Linked DNA regions of Homo sapiens. The protein of the gene in region 1 interacts with the protein of each later gene in a biochemical or structural test. Each region holds a gene or a part of one and is shown on either strand. Other genes may lie near its edges.

Region 1 (4,440 bases):
AAAAATTAGCCGGGCGTGGTGGTGCATACTTGTAGTCCCAGCTACTTGGGAGCTGAGGCAGGAAGATCGCTTGAGCCTGGAAGAGCCTGGGAGGTTGAGGCTGCAGTGAGCCATGTTTGTGCCACTGCACTCCGGCCTGGGCGACAAAGTGAGACCCTGTCTCAGAGGGGAAAAAAAGCAAAACAAAACAGGATTGCTTGGTTCTAGCCACATTTAGTTTTTCTCGTCTAGGGACAACAGGGAGAACAAGAGCTTTACCATAGAGTGGCCTGCTTAATCCACAACCTAGTTGATAAGGACCTAGAAACAACAACGTCATTAGTTATTCACCTTTTAAATTGTCGACAGTGTTACCGAAAAATCATAGGCCTAGCTTCAGTTTGGAACCAGCTCACCCAAATTTTTTTTTTTTTTTTTTTTTTTTTTGAGACAGAGTTTCGCTCTTGTTGCCCAGGCCGGAGTGCAATGGCGTGATTTTGGCTCACCGCAACCTCAGCCTCCCGGGTTCAAGCGATTCTCCTGCCTCAGTGTCCCGAGTAGCTGGGATTACAGGCATGCGCCACCGCGCCCAGGTGATCTGCCCGCCTCGGCCTCCCAAAGTGCTGGGATTACAGGCGTGAGCCACTGCAGCCGGCTTTTTTAAAAAACTCAGCAAAAAGACTTTGGTTCCTCACTTTCTCCAAGGATAATTACTTCAGGATGTGGAAATATTTCTGAGTTGGGGTCCTTAGTATACAGTTATTCTTTATTACTGCGCAGACCGAATGGGAAAGAGAACTTGGCTGTAGTGACCCTTTTTGTTGCGTTTTCTCCAGAAGGTCCAGTATTCACTCTGTGCGCTTTTGTGTGTTCTGTCAGGCTTGATCACCTTTATCCAAAAGAATTTTCTCCTGTGTCTTTCTTTTTAGATTATTTCTCAAGATGAAGCTGACAGAAGAGGGAAAGTGTATGATAAATACATGTGCAGCTTTCTGTTCAACTTGAACAATGGTATGTTTCAGAGCTGGGAGGCAGTGAGTTCCTGAGTTGCATGTGGCAGCCTTCTGCCGGCCGAGTGTTCAGAAACGAGGGTAGAGGTCAGTGAGGTGACCAGAAGGAGGATCTCCTTAGAGGCATGGGGGGCTGCTTGCTTGAAAGGAACTGGAGCAAGGAATTCCTCAGGGAGCAGATAGACTAGATGTGCAGGAAACCGCCTCTCTGGAGTCCCGGCTGTCTGTGGGTGGCACTATCCCAGCATCTGGCTGTGAAGGGGACGTTGTGCTCTTGCTGCTCACCTCACCTCTTGTGTTCAGGCAGCTCAGCACACCTCCTCCAGTCAGTGCCTCTGAGCGGGGAAGGAGGGGAGGAGCACTGCATTTGCAACCATCTTCCAGACTCCCCTGGATATTCTCAAAGGACTGAGAGGAAAGGCAGCTGCTTTCATAGCTGATGTTCTGGGGTAGAATGTAAGGCTGTGTAGGGATGTTTCTGGTGGGATTATGTGAAAATGGAGGTAGGCTTAACATGTAAGATATTCAGAGAAACTCTTAGTTGGAACAAGTAGAATAGGTTTTTTTCTATGAATGCTTTATAGACATTATAATGAAAAAAACTAATTTTAAATGTGAAAATGCCTATTCGTGATGTTTGGAAGAATTTTGTCAGATTTTTTTTTTTTTTTGCTATGTTTTGCTCAGTAATGTATGTTTATAGTTGATAATTAATAGCTTTTGAGTCAGATAACCATCTTGAATTATAGGTGATTAATTTTAACCTGGAACAATAGTGTGTTCTTCCAAATGTCATTTCTTACTGAATGAAGCTGCTTGATTTATTTGCTTTTGCAGGCAAACCCTGAAGAACTGTAACCAGTTGCATTTACAAAATCATAATAACTTGGTTTACTTATAACTGAAATTATTCACTGGGCTGTGCTTACTTTTTTCTTTTTAGATTTTGTGGTGGATGCAACCCGCAAGGGTAACAAAATTCGTTTTGCAAATCATTCGGTAAATCCAAACTGCTATGCAAAAGGTAGGTACCTTTGACGTGAGAATTGGAACTCCCTTTTCAGTCCTGTGATGATGGACTTGAATACTTCTGGGATAGTTGTTTGTTATGTGAACAAGTCAGTTAACCCCCCGTGGCCCGTCTTCATGCTCACTGACACCAGTGTGTCTCTTTGCAGTTATGATGGTTAACGGTGATCACAGGATAGGTATTTTTGCCAAGAGAGCCATCCAGACTGGCGAAGAGCTGTTTTTTGATTACAGGTTGGTAAAGTACATTTCTAGCATGATCTCTAAGGGCTTTTTCTACTGGATTGTGAACTCTGGACAAAGGAGGGTTTTTAGTTCTTTGCTTCTTTTGATGGGTCACTTTGCCATGAGCATTAGTGGGGAATTAGGTTACACTTTCCTGTTATGTATTTATTATCCATTTATATATTATACAAGGCATGCTTATTTTTAAAATAGAGTAAAATCCATGCAGAAAGCCCCATTTCTCACCCTGCTGTTGACAGCTGGGTGAGTCCTAGACCTTCTCATATCATGCCGCATGCTGCATGCTCACTCGTGGAGCGTTTTCCAGATAAGTGCGATCACACTGTCCTATAGATTTTTCTGCAACATGGTTTTACTTGACAATATACTATGCATATCTTTATGGATTAGATCTACTTAATTTATTGTTTGCTATAATACTTATTACACATATCATTACCATTTTAAAAGGGGCTGTTGGCAAATCGCTGTCTGATCACCCTGTGGGGATGCCTGGGACACGTGGGCCACCAATGGTATCTGTGTGGTTAGGCATTAGGCTGCCAGTTGACACTGTCAAGCTCTGTGGGATACATTTAAGTCAGCCATTGAATACAGATTTAAGTGCAGTCAGATGACTGTCTAGTTAATGAACTCCTGTAGCCCCGTGTACATCCCATCCAGAAGCTGTCTTTGAGTACTGTGTTCTTGCATATTCAGGCTGGCCTTTAATGGCTGTTGCACAGCAGCGAGCTCTCAGTGAGGCAGACAGGGTCTGAGTGAAGGGCCCACTTTAGCAAAGGCCGCTGCCTTCACTCCAGGCTGGCTCTGAATGAAGAGTGTGGGGTGGAGCTTCCTTGGGATGACCCGGTGGCCTCACCCCCCATGGTGGGCTTCTTGTGCTCCTCTCTGGGTGTCCGCTGCACTCCAGTTCTTGCTTCACCTGGGGGAGCAACTGGCGGGCTGCTCTTTGGCCCTCTTTGCTATGGTCATCATTTTTTCCAGACCATGGTTCTATTTTGCCTTCCCAGCGTCAGGCCTAAGCATCCTGATGTGGACCAGCCTTCCTGGGACCACTTGCTTCAGAGGCATAGGGGAGGCTGGTCAGGCTCTGGGAATGCTTGTAGACAGGTTTGTTCACTTCAGAACTTGGCAGCGTCTCAATTAGATGGCCAGCAACACAGACCTATGCATTGCCTTCTATGAATGTGCCGTTATGCAGGCAGCTGTGTAATTGGATGGGTTTTTTTTTTTTTTTTTTTTTTAAAGACATTTTAATGCACCCACTATCTTCAGCAGGCTTTGTTGTGTTAAGTCTCAGCACATGTTGGATGGGTGGCCATCCAGCGGACATCTCCTTCCTGTTGTTTCAGATACAGCCAGGCTGATGCCCTGAAGTATGTCGGCATCGAAAGAGAAATGGAAATCCCTTGACATCTGCTACCTCCTCCCCCCTCCTCTGAAACAGCTGCCTTAGCTTCAGGAACCTCGAGTACTGTGGGCAATTTAGAAAAAGAACATGCAGTTTGAAATTCTGAATTTGCAAAGTACTGTAAGAATAATTTATAGTAATGAGTTTAAAAATCAACTTTTTATTGCCTTCTCACCAGCTGCAAAGTGTTTTGTACCAGTGAATTTTTGCAATAATGCAGTATGGTACATTTTTCAACTTTGAATAAAGAATACTTGAACTTGTCCTTGTTGAATCATCTCTCATAACGTGTCAATAACTGCTTTCAGGACTGCTCAACAAAAAACTTTTAAATTTAACTCCTTGGGTTTTTTAGTTGTCTTTGTATGAATCTTGATTTAACTAATACTGCCTGTGAATATGTGGAAGACATATATGAAGAACACTGCTGTGCATCCTGAGGGCTTACCCAGTAAAGGGCTTGATCTTATAGACAAGACCAGGGTGGGTACGTTCCAGTCAGCTGTGCAACCTGGAGAAAGAGATTTAACCTCCAAGTCTGTTCCCCATATATAAACTGACAGAGTAGACTTTTAGGTTATTTTTAAGAACGTACCTAGTTCTAAACTCCATTAGTCTAGATAGAGTTCTTTAGAAACAAACACAATATAAGTTGGGATTCCTTACCTACCTTATCACAAAAGGTGATTGATAGGTATAACCAAACTGTAGTTTTATATCTTCTCAGAGGTAAAAATCACAAACTCTGAAAGCGTCAAGGAAACG
Region 2 (7,031 bases), on another chromosome or scaffold:
CATTCAGCTTCCTTTGCTTCTCCCAGAGGCTGTGGCCAGGCCAGCTGGGCTCGGGGAGCGCCAGCCTGAGAGGAGCGCGTGAGCGTCGCGGGAGCCTCGGGCACCATGAGCGACGTGGCTATTGTGAAGGAGGGTTGGCTGCACAAACGAGGTTAGTACCCGCTGCCAGGGCTGGGCCTGGGGAGGGAGAGATGGGGGTAGTAGCCCCAGGGTCTGTGAGTGCCTGTGCCCTGCTGGGTGGGAGGGGCTGCCTCCCCTGGGGCTCCTGGGCTGGCCTAGGGTGAGTGTCCTGGGCCCCATGTCTTCCCATGGCATGGAGGGCACGGCCTCGGGGAGGCCAGGAGGATGAGGCCCTGTGCAGGGCCGGCCATCTGAGTGGCTTCCTGGTGTGGGCCCTGGCAGGCGGGGGAGCTGCTGCCAGCCTCTCTCCTGGCTTTCCTGGAAGGCAGCGAGGACACTGGGCTGTTCCAGGGTCTGGCACGCTGGCGGCCCAGGGCACTGCCCAAGGGCTCCTGAGGGCAGGGCAGGGCTGCTTGGCTTGGCCTGGTGCCTGCTTCAGGCCTGAGCTTTGGGGGTGGGGGGAATCCGTACCGCCTGGGCACAGGGCATGTTTGCCTTGGAGCTGCAGAGCTGGCTGAGCCAAGTCCCCCAGCCCCTGTGTCCCCCTCCTCACTCATTTGGCCTTGCAGCCTATGGAGGAGGTGCTGCCCGAGGGGCCTGGCCAGCAGCTGGGTGGGATGGGAGCTGGGGACATAGCCCCACCCCTTCCAACCCTGTGCAGGCCCTTCTGCCTCACCCACCCTCCGTTGCTCAGCGGGGTGCGGTGGAGTCTGGGTGGCTGTTTTGCTCCTCTGTCCTGCTAGGGTGGGCTTCCTGTTCAGGTCCAGGTCCTCTGGCCAAGTCACTCTCTTCTGCCCCAGGCGGAATCGGTCCGCCCTCTCCTGACTTCTTTTTCCAGACTTGTTCCCTCCTAAGTTCTAGTGATCTCATGCCAGCAGCCCCCCGGCTTTACGTACACCCTCTAGCAGATGGGTTTCACATCTGGTAGTGGGGAGACCCCAAACACAGCTGGAGCAGACAGGGAGGTGTGGCAAAAGTAGGTGTCACAAGATGGGGCATTGTGGGATGTATAGGAGCTCACAGAAGAGCAGGCCTAAGGAGCCACAGGAGCCTGGGGGTGGGGTGAAGGAGTGACCGAGATGAGATGCTGGGGGAATCAGGGGTGTGGCTGGCTGTGTGTTTGGAGTGTTTGAGTGGGCAGCTACCAGTGATGGCACGCGGGGCCTCGAGATGAAGACAAGGAGGCTGCAGACGCCTGTGGTCCTTGGGGAGCTTCTGGCTCTGCTTCCCCCCAAGGCCTCCTGCCGCATCCTGCCTTCTCCATCCCCTCCCCGTGTGCTGTCCCCTGCTTGTTCCCCAGGAGTCCTGCCACCTGTGCCTGGAGGTCCTCTCCTCACCTCACAGCCCTCTTTGGTGTCAGGGACCCCCTGCCCCGACCCTGGCCCTGTTCCTCTCTGTGTCACATAGTCTGCTGCCTGGGGCCGCTGCTTCTTTATCCTTGGCAAATGTGTGTTTGTTGATAGACTGTTGGATCTCGGGCTGACCCAGGAGATGCCAGGGCCTTGACTGCCCAGGGGCCCAGGCCCCAGTTACTGGGGCACCCATCAGCCAGCTGGGCCTAGGCAGGAGTGCTCCCCCGAGGCCAGGTGATTTTCAGGCTGCTGCTGATGTCGTGCCTTCAGGAGGGGCCTGGCAGGGACAGGACATCAGGCCCAGTGGGGCGTCCAGAGAGCTGAGTTTGAACCCTGGTTAGCCACTCTATCGCCATGACCCTTTCCAAGAGCAAGGTCATTGAGCTCCTTGGGCCTCAGTTTCCCCATCTACACCAGGGAGCGGTGGTGGGAGAGAGACCTGGTGGAGTGGAGAATGGCTTGTGGGCGGCCCTGAGTTGGGGTCCGGCCAGCCTCAGCAGCCTCTGGGCTCTGTCATCTGGCCCCTAGCCTCAGGCCAGGAGAGAGGGTCCTGTACCTCTACCCCCGGCTCTTCCTCCTCCATCCCCAGTGTAGTGGGCGCTGAGGATGGGAGGTGGCGTGGATATGACATATGCCCTTGGCAGGCATAGCCCCTCTTGTTGCCGAGAGCAGGTGGCGTCCACCCGCATGGCCGGCCGCTCCTTGCGGAGGAAAGCCTGTCCTCCGGGGCCTGCCGCATTTCGCCACTCCCGTCCCTGGGGTCCCCTGTGTGTCTTGCAGATGTGCTGTGCCACCCTCCTGGCAGGGCCAGCCCCACCCGCAACACTGGTTAGAGGTACTAGCTGCCTTCCTGTCCCTAGCAGGGCTGTGCTGGGCTGACCCCACCCGTGCTTCACAGTGCTCAGGCCTGGCTGGGGGTGGGGAGGGAGGGAGGGACGCAGTGACTGTCCTCCAGGCCCGGCCGCAGCCCCTTGCAGACGCCCTGTTCCACTCCCCCCCAGCCTTGCTCCTGCAGGTCAGGGTGCTTGTCTCAGAGGCTGGCCCGCACCTGTCCCCTTTGCCGGGACTCCCCACGACCGTGGCCTGGGGCACTTTGGTTCTCAGCTGAATCCCCAGGTGACAGTCCCACCACGGCTACTTGGGCTGGCCACACGTGGCGTGATGGTGCCTTCAGGGGTGATGTGGTCATTGAGATGAGAGGGGACGGGTATGCCCTGTGTGTGAGGGGTGGGGTGGCAGTGTCTGCAGGCTCCTTCTCCTGCTCCTTGGGAGGTGAGCGTCATCTCTGGGAAGTGGCCCAGGCTGCTTTCTGTTGTTCTGATGTGTGTGCTCTGAGTCAGAGGAGCTTCAGGGACAGAAGGGACCGGGCATGGGGACACAGGAGTTCCGGCTGCAGGCCTGTGTGGACCTGTGGCTGGACCCAGGCGAGGCCTCTGGGTCTGCACATCTAACAGGGAGATGGTTCCTGGAGGGTGAGCTTAGGCTGTTAAGGGCAGGAGCTAGTGAGGAGGCTGGTGGGGCCTATAGGGACAGGGGGCCAGATGTCCCCTCCTGTTTCGGCTGTCTCACTGGATAAGCAGCCCAGCTCAGCTCTGGCCATTGGTGGTCTGGTGGGCTCAGTGTTGCTCAGACGTTTGCATTTTCAAAGATTTGTTCTGTTGTGTGAAGTCTCCTGATTTTTGAAGGCTGACAATTTTAAAAAATCAATCCTGGGCCAGGGCGCAGGTCTGGCTGAACTCGGCCTCCAGCCTGCAGTTTTCCTTCCTTTGATAGCTCCGTGCCAGGCTTTGGCCAGAGGCTGTGTGGCTCTTTTGAGGTACTTTCCCCAAACAGCTTGCTCACCTTGCCCGCTTGCCCCAGTACTCCTGGGGCCGTGCACCAGCCTGGCTGCAGCCTAGCCCCGTGGAGAGCTGCCCTGGTGCAGCCCCGGCCTGGAGCCTGTTTTTGTCCACTCGCGGCTGTCTTCCTGAGCGTCCCCCCGTCCACATGGCTGGACCAAGTGGGTCAGGAGAGGGCCGAGGCGGGTGGCCGGGATGCTGGGACCCAGGATGAGGTGCTCTGGGCTCTCGAGAAAGGGCTGGGCCTAGGCCAGGAGTGGGTGCCGGCCGCAGGGGCACCACCTGGACTCCCTCAGGCTGGTCGCTGTCCGAGAGGGGCCGGGGAAGAGCTGCAGGCCTGGCTGCCTTCGGCAGGCTGTGACCCAGCAGGCCAAGGCCGAGTGGGCGGGGGTCGAGGGAAGCTGCCTGGGGCGCGTGGGTTACGCGGCAGACGCTCCTGAGTGTGTGGGCAGCGTGTCCAAGCCACGGATCTGGGTGCCTGGCCGGGCCCGGGTGACACGGGACCGTGTGTCCATGCGGCTCACGGAGGGTCCAGTCTCCGGACATCTGAGTCCTTGCCATGCCCTACCCCGGGCCCATGCCTGGCATAGACCCCCCAGTCCAGGCCTCAGGGCAGCCCCCTCACCACTCCTGCTGAGTTAGCCCCAGGCGTCCCGGTGGGGAGTATGGAGGCTGGTCTCTGACCCCAAGCAGGTGCCTAGGCTGGGCCTCCTTCCCACCCCCTCTCCCCGCCTTGAAGTCCTGGCACTGGCTGTCCCTGCGGGGGGGCACTGAGGCAGGGAGAGAGTGGTTCCTACCCCAGTGTGTTACTTCGCTTTGGTGAGCGACATAGAACCTCACTGCATCCCCAGCTGCTGCTCAGCCATCCAGCTGGTCCTGGGGTCCCTGCGTGAGGTGGGGGACCTCAGAGGGTACAGGCCACTCCCCTTCATCCTGGAGGAGGCCTTGGCTTTGCTGAGTAAACACCCTTGAGAAGAGGTCTGTGGGGGACTCTGAGCCCACTCCAGAGAGCAGCTGCTGCGGAGGGCCCCGCAGGGCTAATTGTTTGTGTGCAGATGGAGGCTGCTCATTACCCCGCCAGGATGAGGGGCCCAGCAGGACCCTGAGGGAGGGAGCCCGCAGACTCTCCCCTCAGCCTGTGGGAACCTTTGGGCTCCAGGCCAGGGCTGCCTGTGCCTCCTGGGCCTCAGTTTTTCCCAGGCTGTCAGGTGAGGGTCAACCCCAGGCTGCGTCTAGGTGGCTTCAGTGTGAGACCCGCGGGCCCTGGGCTGGTTAGTGCCAAGCTCTGCCTCCCCTGGGGGAGCGTTGAGGGTCTGGAACGGCCCCCGTGGGCAGGCCAGGGACAGAGATGGGGAGGCAAGTGTGCTGGCTCCTGGTGGGAGGGCTGGGCAGAGAGTGGGGGTCCCAACAGCCCTGGGCCTACCCGGGAGAGGGGCAGGAGGCACAGGCTGGTGGAGGTCATGGCATGGCTGTGGTGGAGGCCGCCAGCATCAGGGAGGTTCCTGTTTTGGGAGCTTGTTGAGTTCTCACTTCAAAAACAACAAAAGAGGAAGCCGAGGTGGCCTTGAGTGGGGGTGAGGGGTCACTGCTGGCCCCAGCCCTGGACCTTAGCCCCCACGCCTGGTGGCTCCTGAGTGGACAGCTCTTCTTCCTGTGTGTTTCTTGGTCACTGGCCCTCTCTGGGCAGGGATGCCCTGTGGGGGGCTGGACTCCGGGAAGGGAAACTGAGGCCCAGGAGAGTGGACAGAATGTGGGTGGAATGATTCCTGTGCTGGGGCCTAGACCCCCGTACACCTTCCACTCTCAGGAGAAGCCTGGCCGGGTTGCATCAGGCCGGGTTCCTAGAAGTCCTGCACGAGGCTGAGCGGAGGGAACTGGCGCGGCCCCCGCTGGCGTCCCCTCTGCCTGGGCACACCCGGCCCGGCTTGGGGCCAGCACCCTGCCCTCGGGCCCTCCCATAGCTGAGACTGGTGGCTGTGGCTGTGGCTCTGGGCCTGCTCCCCAGGCCACCCTGGGTGGGCAGCTGCCTGCTGCTTCTGTCTGCTTGGACCATTGTGCCTAGTCCCATGGCCTCAGGAGAAGGTTCCCCCAGCCCAGCGCTGGGGCCCCGGGCAGGTTGGCAGAGGGCCCTGGGGCTCCAGGCCAGGATGGGGCTGTTAGGCGAACCCTAGGCCCCTTACTTCCTCATCTCCAACGGGAGTTCCCTTCCCTGCCATGCCGCCTTTAGGTGTGTTTTCCTTGAACCTTAAGGAATGATAGGTTTGGATTTCAGAAACGTTGGAATTGAGGGGGTTGGGAGTTCATGGGTGACTCTGCTGCCAATGTTGCGGGCTTTGGGGTGGGATCCTTGGGGCGCTGTGTTTGGGCTCACACACCCCCCAGGCGGGCCCGGTGACTGCAGACCCCACCCATACCCTGTAACCTGGCGGGCCCACCTGCCCAGGCCCTCAGCTGGTTGTCCAGCTCAGGGGTGGAGACACCCCCTGGGCAGGCCTGGCGGGGAGGTGGCTGCTCCCTGGGCCTGGAGAATGCAGAGAGGCCCTTCGGCTGGCCAGGGTCTGGCTGGCCTCCCCACAGACTGGGGCCAGGGGCACAGCAGCCAGGTGTAGGGCGCGGAGACGCTGAGCTGCACAAGCTTGGTGAGGTGTGGGGTGAGGCCACGGGGGTCAGGGCCACAATGTCCCAGCAGGCCGGGGGATCAGAAGGAGCACCCTCCACAGCTGGCCGTGCTCTGGGGGCCCTCCTGCCCCAGGCGTGGCTCCAAGTTGGGGCAGAAACAAGATGGTGGGGAGATGGAAGGCCCCTCTGTGGCGGGTGCTTCCCATGGTCGGTGTGGAGGACGAGGTCCCTACTGCCTGGTTCCAGTTCCCCCAGCAATGCAGGGCACTTTTCCTGGGGTGTCAGGGATTGAGAGGCCAGCACTGGAGCCCTTCAACCGCCAGGGGCCCTGCCCAAGAGAGACGGGAGGAGGGAGGGGCTGTGGGCATGGCTGCGTGCCCCCGGCCGAGCCCCGGAAGGAGCCTGTGCCCGTGCCCACTTCCTTTCCCGAGGGCAGTGTCTACACGTGGGACACTGTGGCCAGCCCTCCCTCGCAGCAGGCACTGTGTGCTGTCCCCATGCCCAGCTTCCTCCCACGCAGGGAGCGAGGGTGAGGGCCCTGGGAACCCACTGGGTGGAGGGCACTTGGCAAAGCCTGCTGCAAGTTATGGGGAGAGTGGGCGGGGGCAGAGTAGGAGGCGCCAGGGAGGGGCTGCAGCCTCATCTGCAGGGGTCCTGAGTAGGCAGGGTGGGCCATGACATGGGTGGGGCTTGTTTGGGGCAGACCAAAAATGAGGTGGGGGACAGGGACAGGGACAGGGTCTTGGGATGTGCTGGGCTCTGCGATGGATGGGTGTGTGGCAGGTGGGGTGCCTTTGCCGGCCCGAGGGGTGGGTGACGGGCAGTGCCTGTGGGGGAGGACATCCAGGCCCAGGTGGTCTGTCAGGGGCAGCACCAGGGAGGCCCAGTACCCCACCCAGTAGAGCCCCAGGAGAATGGAAAGCTGAGACCCAGGTGCTTCCCTGGAGTGGCAGGAAGAGAGGCCCCAGCGCCTCCGGCTGTGCCTCAGCGAGGTGGACGGGGTCATGGTGGTGCCGCCTGCCCGCACCATGTTCCTCCCGGGGTGTGTGTGTCGGGCTGAGGCCTGCTCCATGGTGGAGCGGAAGGAGGTGAAGAATTTGCA
Region 3 (7,031 bases), on another chromosome or scaffold:
TAAATTTTTAAAAATCTAATCATTCTGGGGTAAGCTTAAATACTCAGAACAAGTGCATTTCAAATGAAACTTCCTCCAGTTTCAGAAAACTTAGTTACTATCTCCTACAATTTGTAAAAATCCGTTTGTCTGAACATAAAAATTAAAAACACTGAGATCTAGCCTGAGTAATACTGCGAGACTCCATCTCTACAAAAAAATTAAAAATTAGCCAGGGGTGGGTGGCATGTGCCTATAGTCCTAGCTACTCAGGAGGTCAAGGCAGGAGATCACTTGAGCCCAGAAGTTGAAGGCGCAGTAAGCTATGATCACGCCCATTGCACTCTAGCCTGGGCAACAGAGCAAGACCCCGTTTCAATCTAAAAAAAAAAAAAACAGCAACAAAACAAACAGATCTCAGAATCTCAGATGAAAGATTTTAGAAACGTTTGGTGTTTGGTGTATTTATTCAATGCCAACTGACAAAACGCATTCTGGAGGATGTTTTCAACTGTCAATGAATTGAAAAATGAAAAGTTCCTTCACAAACATAGTAGAAATAAATGAGTAAAAAAGGAATGACATATTCAAGAGGATGCAGTGTGTTCAATTCAAATAACCTGACTCTACCCATCAAAAGCTCATGTTCTAATCCCATCTCTTAATACCAGGTAACCAATATAGCTATCTAATTTCAAATAACACACAAGCATGAAAAGGGAAAATTTTTCAAAGGAGATTTTTTTAAAGGATATTCTAAAATAAAACCAAAGAGAAAAATAAAAGAGTACAACAGATTTTTAAAAAATAATCTGAGGTCCACAAAGAAATCCGTTACTATCAACTGCTGTCTTCCTCTCAGATAGCAGACGCATTTCCTAACAAGTAATCCTCTGTATGCTCACTTCCAGCATATATAAGACAGTCAAGTAATTTAAGATGCACATACAGTAGCTATGTTATGTGCTTTCTAACAGAAACATTTTTCACCTACATACACAAATGTAACTATAATAAAATAAAAAAGTCTTTTTACGTTAGATTTTGGAGTTACCTGCTGGCAATGTAAATGTTACAAGGTCAGTCAGAAAATAGCAAGCAAAATCCCCCTTTCTCTGATGAAGAGAGGCAGCTATCTCTCTCCGGATTTGTTCTGTCAGTTCAGGACACACCATTGCTGGAATACACTTTGCTGCTTGTTGAGACACCTTAAATACAAAAGAAACCTTCCTCTCATCTCATGTATCATAAGTGGAAGCAGAAAACAACAGTATTTAAAAGAAATCAGCAAAATTTCCCAATAACTCAAGGTTTTCTTTAATCTTAAAATACACTGGTATTATTTCCTTACCAATGAAAGTATATACCAGAATAAGTTTTCAGTAACAGTCACAAAAATGTTTTATCCTCTGATTCAGTAATTCTCTTTAAGAATTTATCACAAGGAAATACTCAAAGATGCACATAAAAATGTATGGAAAAGGGTGTTGTTCATAGACACATCACAGGAAGAGGAGAGAGGACAGAAAACCTCAGTAGACTAACCATCGTGCACACAATAAAAACATTCTTTAGAAGCAGAGAATCACAGCTGATAAAGGGAAACTGCAAATACTCTTCTCCCACACCACAAGTTTCAAGTACCCTAACTTGGACTTAAAAAAAGCACGGTATTTAAAGGGTTAGTTCCCACTGACCTCAAGCCCTTTCTTCCTCTCCATTTGTTACCACTCTTGAGTTTTTAAAAAAGCATTTGGCATCTGCAAGTTTAAACACAGACTGCCAACCTCTGAAGCTCAGCCTGACAGGAGTGAGATGGGAGCACTACTGCACAGGCCTCTAAGCAAGAAAACAACAAACCAAAGAAGGCTAGAACTTTCTTTTGTTATTTTTTTATTCTTTTTAAAATGCTAAATAGCAACAAATGTTGCAAAGATTTAATTTAACCTCACATTTCAGTCATATCTAGTTTGTGGAGCTAAATAAAAATACATACACAGAATTCTAAAATCACAGTTGAGCATCTGCGAGTAACAAACAGAATTCAAGGCCAGGCACAATGGCTCACGCCTGTGATCCCACCAACTCTGGGAGGCCGAGGCGGGTGGATTGCTTCGGCTCAGCAGTTTGAGACCAGCCTGGCCAACATGATGAAACCCTGTCTCTACTAAAAATACTACTACAAAAATTAGCTGTAGTCTCAGCTATTTGGAAGGCTGAGGCATGAGAATCACTTGAACCCGGGAGGAGGAAGTTGAAATGAGCTGAGAACGCGCCACTGCACTCCAGCCAGGGTGACAGAGAGAGACTCTGCCAAAAAAAAAAAAAAAAAAAAAAAACCCCAAAGAGAATACCGTGGGAACCCACAGTGAGCCTGTTCCCTGATGTCACCAACCTGGACGATTATCCCAAAGGTAGCCTTCCAGCCACAGTGGGGTGTGAAGCAACAGGTCTTCCAGCCCCTTCTTCTTCTTCTCAAAGAGTAAGGTTTAATGATAATGTTATCTACATCATATATGCAGACAACTAACTGCTATTGCTATTAAAGAAATAATATTTCAAAAACCCTGCATACCCAGCACAGTTACCTGACTCCCTATTCTGAAACTGCAGCTTGGTGCAGTGGCTCACACCTGTAATCCCAGCACTGTGTGAGGCCAAGGCAGGAGGATCATTTGAGCTCAGGAATTCAAGACCAGCCTGGGCAACATAATGAAACTCTGCCTCTACAAAAAACCCCAAAATATTAGCTAGGCATTAGTGGCATGCACCAGTAGTCCCAGCTACTGGGGAGGCTGAAAGGTGAGAGGATCACTTGAGCCAGGGAGGTCAAGGCTGCAGTGAGCCATGATCACTCCCCTGGGCAACAGAGAGAAAGTCTGTCTCAAAAGAAAAGAAAAAAATAAAAAATTTAAAAACTCCTACGTGGAAATTCAGTTCAACTAGACTTTATTGGCCAAGATTACCATTAACCATGAAAATTCTCACTATATCTTAACTCCATGAGCCCAACCATTAGTCAACACTCAAACATGGAAAACCAAATATTAAATATTTTCAGAATATAATTGACTATTTCTCAAGTAACATAGTTAAAATGGCTCCCCCAAAGTAAATTCAAAAATAGCTTATTCCCATCAGCTAGCTCTCAGGCCCTTTCCAAAAACCTGGAAAGACCTTTCCAAAAACCACCTGGACTGGACCCTGACTACCACAAACATTCTAAAAGAAACTTAGCCCCCAAACAACCCCTTCCACCACCATCCTTAAGCAGGATGTGCCCCTGAAGCCTGCCACTCACCTTCTCACCTCCTTCAACCTTATGGTTCTCAACCATCTCCGTAGGCTGGGAGTTCTTAACTTAGGGTCCATGATCTTGGGAATGGTCCATGTACTTTAATGGGAATTTGGTTTTAATTCAAGTTAAATCAATTATCCCCAACTTTTTACCTATATTAAAATGTATTTTCTTATATATCACAAATTTAGTTTAGTATTTTGGTAGCTATTACTTCAATACAACTGATTTCCTTTGTAATCTCATTTACTTCTTATTTTTTGTATTTAAAAACAGTATTCTGGGAAGGAGTCCATAAGTTTCATGAAACTACCAACATGGTCCATGACACAGAAACCGATGAAAATTCCTGCCCCACATACATATCCCCAACTCTAATGTTCTCCTGTTCTCATTCCAAAAGAACTTGGCTGAGCATTCTCTGCAACACACCCCCTTAGTCTAGACTTAGTCCAGACTCCCCCACTTCCAGTCTCCCTACTGGCCCCTTTAATTCTGTCCTTTGGAGTATTTACTCCATGGAGACTGAATCCATGACCAATTTTGCTCTTTGCCTGGAACAAATCCCCTCCACCTCTCCCACGCTGTTCCAGGGTTGTTCTACACGTCCCACGGAATACAGCAAAAGTAATGGTATGTTGCTTCCTAAATCAATTTATAAAAGACACTGCAGGTTTCAAAGACACTGGATCACTCTCTTGTACTCTGTGCCTCTCTTGGATCACTTGTTGGGGGTAAAACCAGCTGCTGTATCATGAGCATCCCTGTAGACAGGCCTGCATGGCACAGTATTGAAGCCTCCTGCCAAAAGCCACCTGAGTGGGCTTAGGAACAGATACTCTAGCCCCAGTTGAGTCTTTTGACAACTACAGCCCTGGACCACTTGACTGCAACCTCATGACATCATGAGCCAAAACTATTCAGCTAAGCAGCTCCTGGATTCTAACCCTCACAAACTCTGTGAGATAACATACATTTGTTGTCTTAGCTGCTAAGTTTCCAGACAATCTGTGATACTGCAATAAATATACTGATGTTCGATCATCATCCCACTGTTACTCCTCAGACTGTCTCAGGAGCTCAATGACTCACAATGGCCCCTCTAAAACCTTGTAATAATCTTCTACCTACCTTTAGGGGAGCCCCTTAAGACTTTCACCCTAGTTCACAACCACCTTCTTTATCCTGGCTCCTGTCACCACCAGCAACTACAACTCCACATTGACAGCCCTTCCAATATACAATAGACAACACAACTAGGCACCACAACACAAATGCAGCCAGGCCTTCGACACTAGAAAAACTCCAATTCTTCTATCTCATGTTCCAAAACCTGGATCCCTCTATCTGAAAAGTTCCCTTCTCCCTTATACTCAATAAGCCTGCCCTTTTGTTTTCATCATGGCCTTCAGTCTCTCAAGCCCCCCACCCCGGCTTCACTGGAATCTTACCAAACTGGACACAGGGGTTAGCTACTACAATCATGTTTCCATCTAACCTTCAAATTTTTTAATCCCCATACAGTGCCCTGCAGTGGTTCCCAAATATTGGCAAATTTGAATAAACAAATATGCAAAAGTATATATGAAAGATGTATACTGACAAAATTTGAATCCACAATTAATATGACTCTCTGCACTTTTACTCTATTTCTCTTACCATTAAAAAATGTTACCTTGGCCAGACACGGTGGCTCATGCCTATAATCCCAGCACTTTGGGGGGCCGAGGCGGGCAGATCACTTGAGGTCAGGAGTTCAAGACCAGCCTAGCCAACATGGTGAAACCCCACCTTTCTAAAAATACAAAATTAGCCAGGCATGGTGGCATGTGCCTACAATCCCAGTTACTTAGGAGGCTGACAAAGGAGACTCGCTTGAACCCAGGAGGCAGAGGCTGCAGTAAGCCAAGATCGTGCCACTATACTACAGCCTGGGCAACAGAGTGAGACTCCAGCTTAAAAAAAAAAAGAAAGAAAAAAAAAACCTGGATAATGTAGTCACATTCTGAATAATTCATACACAATCTCTATCATTGGTAGCATGTACCTAGTTATGTAAGCCAGAAACTGAAGAATCAACTTACATCCACACTGTATCTTCCCATATCCAATCAGTCTACTTCTTCAGACTGAGGGCCTGTCTCAGTCTCTCCAACCCTCTAACCCTCTTCCCATTTCTAAGGCTACCCTTCTGGGTACCCTTCTATGGCTACCCTTCTGCCCTTCTGGCAGAAGTTCTTGCCAGCACCTCTGCAACTCCCTCCTAACCAGGCTCACCCCTCTCCAGTGTGCAGCAGCCAAAACACAATCTGCTCTGCTCACTCCCCTGCGCCCATACCTAACACCATCCAGTGCCTAGGGATAATCTTCAAATTCCTTGACACAGAAGATCCTTCGTAATCCAGCCTCTGCTTATCTTTCAGACTTCCCTTCTCTCCATTCCCAATCACCATCTCAGCCATGCTTAGTTACCTGCAAGTCCCTAGATTCACCACAAATTCCACCATCTCTGCCCCCTGTAAAAATGCTTTCCTCAACTTCCCTTCTCTCCCTTATCCACTTCATGTGGCTAACTCCTAACTCTTTCTCTTCAAATTGCAGCAAAAACATTACCTGCTATAAGAAAGACGACAAGACACCTCAAAACTCTTCAAGTACTGGCATAACACTTGGCATTTACATCTACCAGGGCACAGGCTGCACAGAATTACCTGTTCATTTCTCTACTTTGCTGGAGATTTAATGAAGAAAGAGCCAGTATCTTTACAATTGTATCCCTTCTCAGCCTAGTGCATGGCACACAGTAAATGCACAATAAATATCTGTTAATTGAATGACTAAAGAATGACAGATACATCCCAGGTTTGTATGAACCAAACATGATGAGTCAAACATTGTTGTGACTATTCAAATATTTGAAAGCATATACCCTTAAAAATTAAGTCTCTTAAGTTTAATGTTATTTTTAAAAGGGGGTAAAAGAATTCAAAACATTTTAAAGCTGCTTAGAGAAACATTATAAAATCAAAAATGAAAACTAAAGAACAGGTTTCTTTAATATAAAAGAACATTTAACCAAAACGCCAAACTTACCTCTGTAAGCAATATTGCTAGCATATCCTGCCTCTGAAAACGTATAGCCAAGTGTACAAGAGTATAGCCAACATCAAAGGCAGAAGGACGATTCAGCAAGCGTACTTCATCTGCGGTGAGCTGACGTGCAATGTCTCCTCCTGATGACTTGTATGCTTCTATGGCAGCTAAATCACCTTCTACAACCCCTAAAACAAGCATCAAGATAGAAAAGCATTTAATTCTCATTTTCTTCAAAAAACACAAACCGTAGCAATCACTCCAAAATCTTTTAAGTGTTTCTCTGTGCTTCCTGGATCCTGATGCATCATTTAAATGTCCTATAAGAGTAAGGAAAATAAGTTTTTTCCTTTCCCTTTAAAAATTTTCCTTCCAGAACTAGAACTGCCTAGACATTTACCTTACCATCAGTGCAGGCTCCAGGCTCTGGTGAGATTTAGAGGAACTATTAGGCTGCATGAATTGGATCGAAGATCAATAATCTAGTATGAGAAACCAGACGTAACAAGAGACACTGAGCCCCTGGTTCCGGTCCTGCGTTCATCCTGACTCTGCAGAAACCAAGGAGACAGGGATGTGCTTCCAGCTGGTGTTGAGCTCCTCCTGCCCTTTACACTGCATTCTTAAAGCAGAATCAAAACAAATGCTGAGCTTTCCATAC
Region 4 (7,031 bases), on another chromosome or scaffold:
TGTGGCTGGAACTCAGTGAGAAAGGGGAGAGAGTGGGAGGTGAGGGCAGAGAAGGAGCAAAGGGGTTCAGCATGGTGGTTCATGTGTGTGATCCCAGCACTTTGGGAGGCCAAGGCTGGGGGATCACTTGAGCCCAGGAGTTCAAGACCAGCCTGGGCAACATAGTGATACCCCGCCTCTACAAAACAAATACAAAAATTAGCCCAGCATGGTGGCGTGCTCCTGTAGTCCCAGATACTAGGGAGGCTGAGGAGGGAGGATCACTTGGGCCTGGGAGGTCAAGGCTGCAGTGAGCCAAAATCATGCCGCTGCACTCCAGCCTAAGCAACAGAGCAAGACTTTGTCTCAAAAAGAGAGAGGGCCAGGTGCAGTGGCTCACGCCTGCAATCCCAGCACTTTGGGAGTCCAAAGCGGGCGGATTGCCTGAGACCATGCAAAGGGGGTCAGATCATGCAATGCAAAGCCTTTTAGGCCACGATGAAGATTTAGGCTTTTCTCCAATTGAGAGTAGAACTGAGGGAGGGCATGAGCTGACTTAGGTTTTGAGAGAATCCTGCTGGCTGCGAGGTGGGGAACAGACTGTAGGGAGCAAGAAGCAGGGAGCCCAGTGAGGAAGCGACTGCGATAGTCCAGGTGGAAGACAAGACAAGATGGTGGTCAGATCAGGGTGGAGACAGTGGCAGTGGTCCCCAGGACTGCTGGCTGGGAGATTGTGCTTGGATGGGCATGCATGAAGGAGAAATGGAGGAAGAAGGGCAGTGACAGGTTAGCACATTTAGCTTAGCACTAATGGCAATGCCAGGCATTGTCCTAAGTGCTTTATTATTGTTATTATTATTATTATTTTGAGACGCAGTCTCGCTCTGTCTCCCAGTCTGGAGTGCAGTGGCGTGATCTCGGCTCACTGCAAGCTCCACCTCCCGGGTTCATGCCATTCTCCTGCCTCAGCCTCCCGAGTAGCTGGGACTACAGGCGCCCACCACCACGCCCAGCTAATTTTTTTGTATTTTTAGTAGAGACGGGGTTTCGCCGTGTTAGCCAGGATGGTCTAGATCTGCTGACCTCGTGATCCACCCACCTCGGCCTCCCAAAGCACTGGGATTACAGGCGTGAGCCATGGCGCCTGGCCTTTTTTTTTTTTTTTTTTTTTTTGAGACAGAGTCTCACTCTGTCATCCAGGCTGGAGTGCAACGGCGCGATCTCGGCTCACTGCAAGCTGCGCCTCCCAGGTTCACGCCATTCTCCTGCCTCAGCCTCCCGAGTAGCTGGGACTACAGGCACCTGCCACCACGCCCGGCTAATTTTTTGTATTTTTAGTAGAGACGGGGTTTCACCATGTTAGCCAGGATGGTCTCGATCTCCTGACCTTGTGATCCGCCCTCCTCGGCCTCCAAAGTGTTTTTTGTTTGTTTGTTTGTTTTTGAGACAAGGTCTTACTCTGTTGCCCAGGCTGGAGTGCAGTGGCACGATCTCGGCTCACTGCAACCTACGCCTCCTGGGTTCAAGCAATTCTCCTGCCTCAGCCTCCCGAGTAGTGGATATTACAGGCATCCACCACTGTGCCCGGCTACTTTTTGTATTTTTAGTAGAGACGGTTTCACCATGTTGGCCAGGCTGGTCTGGAACTCCTCACCTCAGGTGATCTGCCCACTTCGGCCTCCCAAAGTGCTGGGATTACAGGCGTGAGCCACCGTGCCCGGCCTATTATTGTTATTATTATTTGAGACGGAGTCTCGCTCTGTTGCCCAGGCTGGAGTGCAGTGGTACTATCTCGGCTCACTGCAACCTCCACCTCCCAGATTCAACCAATTCTCCCGCGTCAGCCTCCAGAGTAGCTGGGATTTCAGGTGCGTGCCACCATGCCCTGCTAATTTTTGTATTTTTAGTAGAGACAAGGTTTCACCATGTGGACCAGGCTGGTCTGGAACGTCTGATCTCAAGTGATTCGCCTGTCTTGGCTTCCCAAAGTGCTGGGATTACAGGCGTGAGCCACCGCGCCTGTCCTGTCCTAAGTGCTTTACATGGCCTAACTCATTTATTCCCCACAACCGCCCTTTTGGGGTAGGTACCGTTTTTTCTTCCTCCGTTTTACAGAGGGGTAACTGAGACACAGAGAGGTTAAGTCACTTGCCCACAGTCACACAGCCAGTAAGAGGAAGTGGCTGGATTTGGACCTAAAATGTCTGGCTGTGGAGCCCAAGCGCTTAACAACACCAGGAACCTCAGAGAAGGGTGTGATTCCGGGGACAGAGTGGGGCCCTAGACAGACTGGAGCAGAGACCGCCTGGTGCGGGAGGTGGGGCGGTGACTCAGGCAGGCCTGGAGAGGGCTCTGCTGTCTCGGATTTTCGACTTTAGGGAGGGGGCCGCGGGGGCCTAGGGACGGTGACAGGGAGGAGGGCTCCAGGTAGTCTCTGTTAATTAGAGATTGGGAGAGGACCGGCCTGGCAAGGCGTCACCAAGGGAGAGGAGAGGGGCCCGAGAGCTGATAGGCGTGGCCCAAGAGAAGGGGAGAGATGGAACCTAAAGTGGCTTGACATGCGACAGGGAGGGGCACAGGAGCCCGGAGGAGCATGGGGAGGGGCAGAGGGAGACTGAGCCCCCGGGGTTGCGGGTGATGGTCCTCAGGCAGTGCCTGATTCAGCCGGGAGCAGGCAGGGGAAAGCCACGGGGCTCAGCACAGGGCAGGGCTGGAGGGAGAGGAGCCTGAAATTGACACGCGCAGCCTGGTAAGGGGGAGGGGCATGGGGCGGGTCGGGGCCTGAGACAGCGGGGGATCGGGGGTGTGGCCGTGGCTGTCTGGGTTCAGAGTCAATCTTGCAACAGGGCCCCCTTGGCAAGGGTCACAGTGCGACGCCGCGCTCCCCTTCACCACCCCAGCTCGGCCCAGCGAGAGGTGCAGCACGTGCAGGCCGAGGGCGGGGCCGGCGCGGAGAGGGTGGCCCTGCATCGTAGTAGGTCCCTCCCCCGCAGTGCTCCCAGCAGGCCCGCTCGTTCTGGAGAAGGGCGTGACTCGACCTGGGGGTGGACCCTAGGCTGAGGGGTAGGGTCCTCCGGTGGGCTTGGTCCCGAAATTGACCCGCGCCCCTCCCCAGTTAGCCCGCGGACCGTGGACTGTATTTTCAGCCCCGGATCCGAAGTGTCCCAGGGGGCGTGGCCCGTGCGAGGGGCGGGGCCTGGGGGCGGGACCAGAGCCTGACGTGTGCCCGCCCCGGCTTCTAGGCGGATCGTGGACCGCATGGACCGCGCGGGGGACGGCGACGGCTGGGTGTCGCTGGCCGAGCTTCGCGCGTGGATCGCGCACACGCAGCAGCGGCACATACGGGACTCGGTGAGCGCGGCCTGGGACACGTACGACACGGACCGCGACGGGCGTGTGGGTTGGGAGGAGCTGCGCAACGCCACCTATGGCCACTACGCGCCCGGTACGCGGCGAGCCCCCGACCCTGCTCCCCATACACCGTGACCCTGACCTTCTGGACCGCCTCATTCTGAGAACCCTGAACCCATTTACCCGGAGTCCCTGGCCCCTAACCAGGCTCTACCCACTTTTAGGAGCCCATAACTGTGAGATCTTCAGTTTCTCACCTCTGGCTTCTCTTTTTTGTTTTTCGTCTGCTTATTTTTCTGGTATTTAGCTGCATGCTAAAAACGATCTTTTTTTCAAACATGAAGTCACAATTAGGTGCTAAAAGCCACTGAACGCACCCAAACAGGGACTTGAAACCTGGGCCCTCAAATTAAAAGTCCAATGCTCTACCAACTAAGCTACCCAGGTTCCCTTCAGGGCTTTCATTCTGGGACTCACCACCTCTGTGACAATATGACTAGGGTACTTGAGATCCCTGGCCAAGGACACCTACTTTCCATGCCTTGTCATCCTGACCCCTAACTTCTGTGACCTCTCATCCTGAGAACCCCAAAGCCAGTTACTCAGCCCCTGACTCTCAGATCCCTCCTTTCTGTCCCAAGTCCCAGCCTCAGTGCCCCACACCCTGCCACACACACAGCCCTCATTCTCTCCCTCCTCTCCTCTCTGTCCCTGGCCCCAGCCTCCCCGTCCAGTCTGTCCTCCACAGGGCTCCGGGGGCGGGGTTCTTCATGCCCAGCACTGACTCTGCCCCTCCCTCCCCCTCCTGGGCCCCCAGGAGACGGTCCCACTCCCCAGCCGGGACGTTTCCTCCTGTGGCTTTGTTTTTCTGCATTTTCTGCACCAAATGGATTTTCTGTGGTTTTCCTGAACTCACCACACTCTTCAAACCTCTACCTTCTGCCCATATTGTTCCCTCCAGTTACAATGCCCGTCCCCTCCTCTCAGTCAAGCCATCTCAGTCCCTGTAAGCTACCCCATCACAGCCTTAGTCTGGGGCCAAAAGGCCCACTGTCAACTCATAGTGGGCCATTCCTGTCTCCACACGCTTGGATCAGTTATTTCTTCTCTCTGAGAATCAATTTTTGCATTCAGAAAGTAGAATACATGGAAAAACCCACTGTATGTGCTTTTTTGTGATGATTAAATGCAATATTGTGCATAAAGAGCTTAGCATATAATCTCTCACAAGTTAGCTAATTTATTGGGTGGATATAATATGTTACATAGCCTGGGTGCCATGGCTCACGCCTGTAATCCCAGCACTTTGGGAGGCCGAGGTGGGTGGATCACGTGAGATCAGAAGTTAGAGACCAGCCTGGCCAATGTGGCAAAACCCCGTCTTACCACAAAAAAATACTTAGCTGGGCGTGATGGTGTGCACCTGTGATCACAGCTACTCTGGAGGGTGAGGCAAGAGAATCACTTGAACCCAGGAGGCAGAAGTTGCAGTGAGCCGAGATCACATCACTGCACTCTGGCCTTGGCGACAGAGTGAGACTCTGTCTCAAAAAAAAAAAAATATATATATATATAGATAGATAGATAGATAGATAGATATAGATATACACACACATACTAATAATATGTTATATAACATATTATATACTTAAATATATATACAAATTATATATAAAGTATCAATATATGCTTTTTTTTTTTTGTGAGGGAGTTTTGCTCTTGTTGCCCAGGCTGGAGTGCAGTGGCGTGGTCTCGGCTCACTGCAACCTCCGCCTCCCGGGTTCAAGCGATTTTCCTGCCTCAGCCTCCCAAGTAGCTGGGATTACAGGCATGCGCCACCACGCCTGGCTAATTTTGTATTTTTAGTAGAGATGGGGTTTCTCCATGTTGGTCAGGCTGGTCTCGAACTCCCAACCTCAGGTGATCTGCCCACCTCGGCCTCCCAAAGTGCTGTGATTACAGGTTTGAGCCACCGCACCCGGCCTACTTTTTTTTTTTTTTTTTTTTTTTTGAGATGGAATGGAGTTTCACTCTTGTTGGCCAGGCTGCAGTGCAATGGCAAGGTCTCGGCTTACTACAACCTCATCCTCCTGGGTTCAAGCAATTCTCCTGCCTCAGCCTCACGAGTAGCTAGGACTACAGGCGCCCACCACCATGCCAGGCAAATTTTTGTATTTTTAGTAGAGAAGGAGTTTCACCATGTTGACCAGGCTGGTCTCGAACTCCTGACCTCAGGCGATCCACCCACCTCGGCCTCCCAAAGTGCTGGGATTACAGGTGTGAGCCACTGTGCCAGGCTTCTAAAATTTTTTTTTTTTTTTTTTTGAGACATAGCCTCCCTCTGTCGCCCAGGCTGGAAAGCAGTGGTGCAGTCTCAGCTCACGGCAACCTCCGCTTCCTGGGTTCAATCGACTCTTGTGCCTCAGACTCCCGAGTAGCTGGGATTACAGGCGTGCCCCACCATGCCCGGCTAAGTATTTTTTTGGTAGAGATGGGGTTTCGCCATGTTGGCCAGGCTGGTCTCAAACTCCTGACCTCAAGTGATCTGCCAGCTTCAGCCTCCCAAAGTGCTGCTATTACAGGCGTGAGCCACTGCATCCAGCCTACTGATATATACTTATTAACTCCACAGAAATCTTTGTACCCCAGTAGGATTTACTTTGTCTTTGTTTTAACCTGCTTGGCGTTTCCTCCATTAAAGCTCATCTCACTGAGACCTGTCCTTCCCCAGGTGAAGAATTTCATGACGTGGAGGATGCAGAGACCTACAAAAAGATGCTGGCTCGGGACGAGCGGCGTTTCCGGGTGGCCGACCAGGATGGGGACTCGATGGCCACTCGAGAGGAGCTGACAGCCTTCCTGCACCCCGAGGAGTTCCCTCACATGCGGGACATCGTGATTGCTGTGAGTGGCGGCTGGGGAACCCTGTCCCCCACACCCTTCCGGGGACCCAGGCTTCCGGTTCAGGTCCTGCTTCCCAGCACCGACCTGGGGGCAGGCAGTCACCTGGTTCTCCAGCATCTTGCCGGGGAAGCCAGGCCGCAAACACAGGTCAGAGGACGGTGACCTTTCCCACCTCCACTCTCAGTCCCCTGGGGTCTGATCTCTCCTCGTCTGGCCTTCCCCTCCCTGTGCTCGCATTTGGGGTCCAGGCCCCCAGCCTTCCCTCAGACAGCCACTGTGCCCCACCTTATACAATTTCTTTTCTTTCTTTTTTTTTTTTGAGACATAGTCTCCCTCGGTTGCCCAGGCTGGAAAGCAGTGGTGCGATCTCAGCTCACTGCAACCTCCGCCTCCCGGGTTCAAGCAATTCTCCTGCCTCAGCGTCCCGAGTAGCTGGGATTACAGGGGCGCACCACCACACCTGGCTAATTTTTAGTAGAGACAGGGTTTCTTCATGTTGGTTAGGCTGGTCTCAAACTTTTGACCTCAGGTGATCCGCCCGCCTCAGCCTCCCAAAGTGCTAGGATTATAGGCATGAGCCACCGTGCCCGGCCAATTTTTAATTTTTTTTTCTAGTAGAGATGGGATTTCACCATGTTGGCCAGGCTGGTCTTGAACTCCGGACCTCAGGTGATCTGCCCACCTTGGCCTCCCAAAGTGCTGGGATTACAGGCATGAGCCACCGTGCCTGGCCCCAAAATGTGCTTTGTTCTATAGAAGAAGGCTTTTTTTTTCTTTCCTTCCTCTTTTTTTTTTTT

What was found.
Region 2: of the proteins of EZH2 (region 1) and AKT1, one has a biochemical effect on the other in vitro, tested with the Homo sapiens proteins (2 studies listed by BioGRID).
Region 3: the proteins of EZH2 (region 1) and ZRANB1 form a complex in vitro, tested with the Homo sapiens proteins (one study listed by BioGRID).
Region 4: the proteins of EZH2 (region 1) and RCN3 form a complex in vitro, tested with the Homo sapiens proteins (one study listed by BioGRID).

The regions. Positions count from the first base shown.
Region 1 is NC_000007.14:148,806,883-148,811,322, reverse strand, and holds the end of EZH2 (histone-lysine N-methyltransferase EZH2), read left to right. Parts: intron 1-908; coding exon 909-990; intron 991-1,932; coding exon 1,933-2,013; intron 2,014-2,167; coding exon 2,168-2,252; intron 2,253-3,616; coding exon 3,617-3,677; 3' UTR 3,678-3,940; downstream 3,941-4,440. UniProt on the Homo sapiens protein: Polycomb group (PcG) protein. Catalytic subunit of the PRC2/EED-EZH2 complex, which methylates 'Lys-9' (H3K9me) and 'Lys-27' (H3K27me) of histone H3, leading to transcriptional repression of the affected target gene.
Region 2 is NC_000014.9:104,785,718-104,792,748, reverse strand, and holds part of AKT1 (RAC-alpha serine/threonine-protein kinase), read left to right. Parts: intron 1-26; 5' UTR 27-105; coding exon 106-151; intron 152-7,031. UniProt on the Homo sapiens protein: AKT1 is one of 3 closely related serine/threonine-protein kinases (AKT1, AKT2 and AKT3) called the AKT kinase, and which regulate many processes including metabolism, proliferation, cell survival, growth and angiogenesis.
Region 3 is NC_000010.11:124,966,121-124,973,151, reverse strand, and holds part of ZRANB1 (ubiquitin thioesterase ZRANB1), read right to left. Parts: intron 6,559-7,031; coding exon 6,371-6,558; intron 1,188-6,370; coding exon 1,034-1,187; intron 1-1,033. UniProt on the Homo sapiens protein: Ubiquitin thioesterase, which specifically hydrolyzes 'Lys-29'-linked and 'Lys-33'-linked diubiquitin. Also cleaves 'Lys-63'-linked chains, but with 40-fold less efficiency compared to 'Lys-29'-linked ones.
Region 4 is NC_000019.10:49,530,972-49,538,002, forward strand, and holds part of RCN3 (reticulocalbin-3 precursor), read left to right. Parts: intron 1-3,221; coding exon 3,222-3,424; intron 3,425-6,061; coding exon 6,062-6,234; intron 6,235-7,031. UniProt on the Homo sapiens protein: Probable molecular chaperone assisting protein biosynthesis and transport in the endoplasmic reticulum.